Linked DNA regions of Homo sapiens: region 2 is reported to be linked to region 1. Evidence: microRNA targets listed by miRTarBase, many of them from high-throughput screens and not tested one by one. Region 1 holds a microRNA gene; the other region holds the end of a gene's coding sequence.
The links. The annotated mature microRNA hsa-miR-668-3p reads UGUCACUCGGCUCGGCCCACUAC and lies in region 1 at 1,139-1,161, shown strand. An mRNA with a match to its seed (bases 2 to 7 or 8) in the 3' UTR can be bound and repressed. Matches are read on the target gene's strand: a 7mer-m8 pairs with bases 2 to 8, a 7mer-A1 pairs with bases 2 to 7 and ends in A, and an 8mer does both.

Region 2: the mRNA of LRRC57 is a reported target of hsa-miR-668-3p. Seed matches in the 3' UTR shown: 8mer at 2,028-2,035.

The regions. Positions count from the first base shown.
Region 1 is chr14:101,054,162-101,057,569 of GRCh38, forward strand. MIR668 (microRNA 668) reads left to right here and starts at 1,097; the gene lies at 1,097-1,162. MIR382 (microRNA 382) reads left to right here and starts at 145; the gene lies at 145-220. MIR134 (microRNA 134) reads left to right here and starts at 526; the gene lies at 526-598. It overlaps MIR485 (microRNA 485), which reads left to right and starts at 1,258; the gene lies at 1,258-1,330. It also overlaps MIR323B.
Region 2 is chr15:42,541,180-42,544,587 of GRCh38, reverse strand. LRRC57 (leucine rich repeat containing 57) reads left to right here. Exons shown (of 6, transcript NM_153260.3): 6 at 464-3,408. The coding sequence ends at 505. Among named protein-coding and RNA genes, the nearest start is that of LRRC57, 5.9 kb to the left of the region's middle.

The sequences.
Region 1 (3,408 bases):
AACTCCAGTGTGTTCCTAGGACACCCGTAAGCTGCCTCACTAATGCTCGGTGTCCACTCTGTCCACAGGATGGTGGTTGGCAGCCACTCCCCTTGGAGAAGTGGAAGGGGACTCCTTGTCTGTCTTGTCTCTGCTTTTCTGTGGTACTTGAAGAGAAGTTGTTCGTGGTGGATTCGCTTTACTTATGACGAATCATTCACGGACAACACTTTTTTCAGTACCAAATGCTACCTCTAAGGACTTCCTGGACACAATGGCAGCTTCAGGAAAGATAGTCTTTGTGTCAACCATGTGGAAAAGCCAAGAATGGATGGCGGGCCATGGACAATGCGCTGACCTAGCTGTAAGTCACCTGGCCCGATAATCCGAGCCTCCCATGCACCTATAGGAGGTCTTCCCATGGGTCTCACCAACTCTGGGGAATCAGCTGTGGTTCTGTCACCAGCGTCACCTCACAAGACTTTGAAGAGAGGCTCCCTGGGCCCCAGGCCGACTTCCAGAAGAGATGTTGGTGTCAGCACCGTCCAGGGTGTGTGACTGGTTGACCAGAGGGGCATGCACTGTGTTCACCCTGTGGGCCACCTAGTCACCAACCCTCAGCATCACTCCCACTCCAGGAAGACTTTCCAGAGCTCCCACCAACTCTGGGGAAGCGGCCATGGACTTGCTGTGACTGCTTGGTGGACTGCGATGACACGTGCTCTTGGGGGTGTATGTTTACTTAAAATGCAATGAGTCAGCCTTGGCAGCCCCTTCACCACTGTGACAGCCTCCTTGAAGTGTTGACTTCCGATGTGGGACGCCATGTTGTCTTCTGTTGAGGGACCTGATGTGGGCCAGCTTTTCTCCTGGGTGTGTGACTGAATCCTTCTTCCCAGAGCATGTGCTGCCTTTGTTAGGTCTGTCACGTCGTCCTCTAATACCCAGCATCCTGTCTCTCCCTAGGAGGCTCCATGGAGATAATGCGGCTTTGGGAAGCGGCCATGATTCTCCTGTCAGGGACCAGTGAGCTACGCAAAAGCTCCCTGTCTTGTCTGGAAGGACGAACTGCATCCTTGCTGCTGGGGAGAAGGCAGTGCCCTCAGCACTCCCTTAAGGTAAGTGCGCCTCGGGTGAGCATGCACTTAATGTGGGTGTATGTCACTCGGCTCGGCCCACTACCCAATACTATCCCACCCATTCCTAACAGGACTCCCGAGAAGGGCGGCCACCTCTGCCAGAGAGGCAATGGATTTCTCACCAGTGTTCATGTGTGGTACTTGGAGAGAGGCTGGCCGTGATGAATTCGATTCATCAAAGCGAGTCATACACGGCTCTCCTCTCTTTTAGTGTCAAATTCTGCCTCGGAGGGCTTCCTGAGCCAGTGCTGCTTCCAAGGTAGGTTTCTGGATGGCTGACCCCATGGCAAGCATTTTCCTGAGGATGCATGTAACTGACCTACTAACTTTAGAGTCCAAGCTGACCCTAAAACAACTTCCTGGGGCACTACCAACTTTAGGAAAATCGAGAGAGGTTGTTGGGATGCCCTAATTTTTTAAAAGTTAAGATTGAAATACACATGGCTGACTTCTTTTTTTATTCCTATCAAATTCAACCTTGGAGTTGAATCTTGGGCATCTAGAAGCATCTTTTATTAGTCAGCCGTCGGGATACAGAAGAAAACAGGAACAGGACTCTGTGCGACCCCTGGTTTACTAACCCACAGCAGCCTTACACCCTCCAGAGAATTCCTGTAAGGGAATCCCAGGTTTACCAAGGAGGCAGTGCTTAGCCTGCTTTTGCACACACATTTGTGTGTGGTTTGCTTCATATTTAATGACTCCTGTGCCACTGACATCCTTGCATTATTAAATGTTGCCTGCATGGCCAGCTGAGCACAAGAAGTGGTATTTCTGTGCACACTAATCCTGGCTTGGTGAACCTGGGGTTGGCCGGAGAGCATGGGTTTGAGCCACCTGGTCCACTCATCCTCAGGGTCCCATCCACCCTCAGAGGCCACTCCCAAGCTGCCCAGGCTGTGCAGAAGATGCAGGAATGCTGCGAGCAGTGCCACCTCATGGTACTCGGAGGGAGGTTGTCCGTGGTGAGTTCGCATTATTTAATGATGCCCAATACACGGTCGACCTCTTTTCGGTATCAGATCTCACCAGGTGTCTTCTTGGACCTGATGCCGATTTAGGGGACACCATACTCATGTTGGTTCCACACCAGTGCAACTGAACATGTGTGTGGCCCTGGAACCAATGGGTAGGTGCTGCTAGCACTCCTAATCCTCAGCCAGTGCATTCCTGGGGAAGAAGCATGTGATCTGTGCTCAAGACCCCTCTGTGACTGAGGAAGTGGTGGTGCCCATGATGCTTCTGGGGTTTTGTGTTTTTTTTTAAAGAAAAACAATGTATAGTTCTCTTCTCTTTCACTATTAAATCTTACCATGGAGGAAGGACTTCTTAGACATGTTGACAAATTCAGGGAAGGGGCGTTGATTTCAGCATTCTTGGGGACTCACTGGAAGGGTGACTCACCACATCTGTTGATCTGGAGGCCACAGCAAATTTAAGAACAGAAGACAGTTGCATTTTCAATTTCTTGTTTTTCTTTTCAAAAAGGATAATTATTCTACCTTATTACCATATTTATGAAAATGACACATGCTTAATAAAATTCAAGCGATGTGGAAAAATCTAAATGAAAAAGAAGGAAAATTGCCCAATTCTCTGGCACCCAGAAATAACCATTAAGGGCTTTAGAAATTTCATACACCTGTCTGAGCATACATGCAAATAGAAAAACAAGACAGACGCAGGGAAAATATGAGATCACACTGTACCTAATCATTTTATTAAAAATGCTAACTATAATTTTCCTTGAATTTATCATAAAAAACAAGCTAAAGGAGATTGAAATGATTGATAAATGTTTCTCGCTTTACCACCACAGGTAGCAACTCCTAAAAGATCCCTGTAAAATTAAGAAAAATTAGAGTGTAAAAATTAAGTGGTTAGGATTGTTATGGTTTTTAACTATTTCAATTTCACTCCTAGTTCAGAAAGATAAAGAAGTCAGCATTCTTATTCTTCCTTTGCTTACTATCTCCTGCTTTTTCTCAATTATACATTTTAATTTTACATTATAAATATCTGCAATTTGTTCTAGAACTATAATTCTTGCAGGTGTTTTGCCATAGTTCTATATTTAAATGAATTCATTTCTGACCACAAGGTTTGTTTTTTTTTAACTGAGGTTTCTCCGTTCTTTAGTTTTTAAGTTTAATTTATCTCTCAATGGAAATGATCTTATTGTTTCTGTGAGAATAGCTCATAGACACTACCCTTGAGTTCCTGTGCATTTGAGAGTATATATCTCTTTATGCACAAGGGACAGCTTAACTAGGTATAAAAGTCTCAGCCT
Region 2 (3,408 bases), not on the chromosome of region 1:
GCCTCCCAAGGTGCTGGGATTACAGGTGTAAGCCACCACACCCGGCCCTATGTGCTTTATTTATTTATTTTTTTTGGAGGCAAGGTCTCACTCTGTCACCTGGCTGGAGTGCAGTGGCAGGATCTCAGCTCAAGTGATCCTCCCATCTCAACCTCCTGATTAGCTGAGACTACAGGCGCTACCATGCCTCATTTTTCTATTTTTGGTAGATTGCTCAGGCTGGTCTGAAACTCCTAGGCTCAAGCGATCCACCTACCTTGGCCTCCCAAAGTGTTGAGATTGCAAGTGTGAGCCTCTGCACCTGGCCAAAACTATGTAATTCATTTTGCATTTACAGCAGTTATATTTTGTAGGAAATGAAAAACCACATGCAATAAAAACCAAAATGAAAAAAAAAATAGTTAGGCTTATATTTATTTACTCATGCCAAAATACCCCTTATGTATTCTTTCATGTTTTTTAGTACATGGAGAGGTTCACAGCCACCAAGAAGAAGTTTGCGTGAAGTTCTCCAGGACTATGGAAACCTTACAGGATACTGACTTAGAACCTCTGTTGGAATGTGGCTGAGTCAAAGCCTCCTGTTGTTGTTAGGGGTATCTACAGTAAGGAGATGATACTTCAGGAGATTATATTTCACTCAATGATCTTTTCTCATTTCAGGGCTCTTCTCAAATAAGCTAAAAGAAAAAGGATCAGGAGACAGGAAAAGTCTTCCGTTTTGAGTCATGAGTAGGGCAATAGACAAGGTTCTCTTCAAAACCATCATTAGTTTGGCTTTAAGAAACCAGTAGCTAGCTGCTATTTATATGGTGAGGGGGTGCTGCCTGGTAACAGAATAGCTCCACACCACAGCTTGAGATTTTGTTTAGTTTCACTGTGTGAGCTTTCATAAAGTCTGTTGCCATTCCATCTCTGTGTTAACACTTCATATTTTTATGAAATTCAGATAATTTGTGAGAGGCTGGCATGGATCTAAGGATTTATTATTTTTATTCTAGTCCATCAGTTCAGTCGCAGTTTTTATACTAGGACTTTAGGATGTACATAAATGTGTGACTGTTTGTCTTGATTAAAAGTGCACTTTGGCCTGGGCATGGTGGCTCATGCCTATAATCCCAGCACTTTGGGAGGCCAAGGCGGGTGGCTCACTTGAGGCTAGGAGTTCAAGACTAGCGTGGCCAACATGAGGAAACCCTGTCTCTACTAAAAATACAAAAATTAGCTGGGTGTGTTGGTGCATGCTTATAATCCCAGCTACTTGGGAGGCTGAGGCAGGAGAATCGCTTGAACCCAGGAGGTGGAGGTTGCAGTGAGCCGAGATTATGCCACTGTACTCCAGCGTGGGTGACAGAGTGAGACTCTGTCTCAAATTAAAAAAATAAAAAATAATTTTTTTTTTTTAAAGTACGCTTTGTTGGCTGGGCACGGCGACTCACGCCTGTAATCCCAGCACATTGGGAGGCCAAGGCAGGCAGATCACGAGGTTAGGAGTTCGAGACCAGCCTGGCCAACATGGTGAAACCCTGTCTCTACTGAAAATACAAAAATTAGCTGGGCGTGGTGGTGGGTACCTGTAATCCCAGCTACTTGGGAGGCTGAGGCAGGAGAATTGCTTGAACCCAGGAGGCAGAGGTTGCAGTGAGCCGAGATCATGCCATTGCACTCCGACTCTGGGCAACAGAGCAAGACTCTGTCTCGGGGGAAACAAAAAAAAAGTGTGCTTTGTCAAGAGAAGCACCAGCAGACCTCTAAGAACTGCTCTCTAAGGCTGCGGTAGCAAATTATCTACTATTGCAGGTGCCTTATTGGTAGAGGGCTCTGAAGAGCCAAAACTGTATATGCAACACTTGTAAGATAAAAGGGACTTTAATAATCAAGATTTTCTTGAAGATTTGTTAGAAATAATGTCTTATTTCTGGTAACCTTTCCCTTTTTGTATTTATAACTCTACTAACCAAATTACCTATCAATAAACCATTACTATAATATTTTAAAACAACCTATGTTTATCAAGCTTACTCTCTGAGTGACAGAATATACTAAATAAAGAATTTTTTAATGAACTTTGGCTGGAAGCAAGGTTAATCCTTTAAAGGAGGAGGACAGGAGAACTTAAACCTATAAATAGATTAGGAAGACATGTTTCATGCTTATGTTCAGATTGTATGAGTAGTGAAATGCCTTCATGTGACATAAACATTTTGTGATACTAGAACTATGCTTATTAAGAGAATCTGAGGTTGGGCGCGGTGGCTCACGCCTGTAATCCCAGCACTTTGGGAGGCTGAGGTGGGTGGATCACGAGGTCAGGAGTTCAAGACCAGCCTGACCAATGTGGTGATACCCCATCTCTACTAAAAATACAAAAATTAGCTGGGTGTGGTGGCACGTGCCTGTAATCCCAGATACTCAGGAGGCTGAGGCAGGAGAATTGCTTGAAACCGGGAGGCGGAGCTTGCAGTGAGGGTGCCATTGAACTCCAGCCTGGGCAATAGAGTGAGACTGCGTCTCAAAAAAAAAAAAAAAGGCCGGGCGCGGTGGCTCACGCCTGTAATCCCAGCACTTTGGGAGGCCGAGGCGGGCAGATCACGAGGTCAAGAGATCGAGACCATCCTGGCTAACACGGTGAAACCCTGTCACTACTAAAAATACAAAAAATTAGCCGGGCGTAGTGGTGGGCGCCTGTAGTCTCAGCTACATGGGAGGCTGAGGCAGGAGAATGGCGTGAACCCGGGAGGCGGAGCTTGCAGTGAGCGGAGATCTTGCCACTGCACTCCAGCCTGGGTGACAGAGCCAGACTCCATCTCAAAAAAAAAAAAAAAAGAATCTGAAGGTACAAAGGTAGAGGATTTCAGACTACCACTAACATCAACATTTAGAAAGCTACCATTTTGGTCATTTTCTGATTTTATCTTAGTCACAAAGCTATTACTAACTATATATCAACAGTTCTCAATAATGGTTAAACCTAGCTTATCCATTAAGTCAAGAGATCACACAAACCTACTATTTAACCTCCACGACAAAATCTTTCTGACGTAAATCTGGTCTAGGTGTTCTCTTTTTCCCATATGTTACTTTCTTTTTTGAGACAGAATTTCATTCCAGACTGGAGCGCAGTAGCACTATCTTGGCTCACTGCAACCTCCACCTACCAGGTTCAACTGATTCTTGTGCCTCATTCTCCTGAGTAATTGGGATTACAGGCATGCACCACCACACCCAGCTCATTTTTGTATTTTTAGTAGAGACAGGGTTTCACCGTGTTGGCCAGACTGGTCTTGAACTCCTGGCTTCAGGTGATCCACCCACCTCAGCCTCCCAAAGTGCTGGGATTACAGGTGGGAGCCAACACACCCAGCCTCCCATATGTCATTTTCTATTTCTCACTTTGAAAGGGGTACT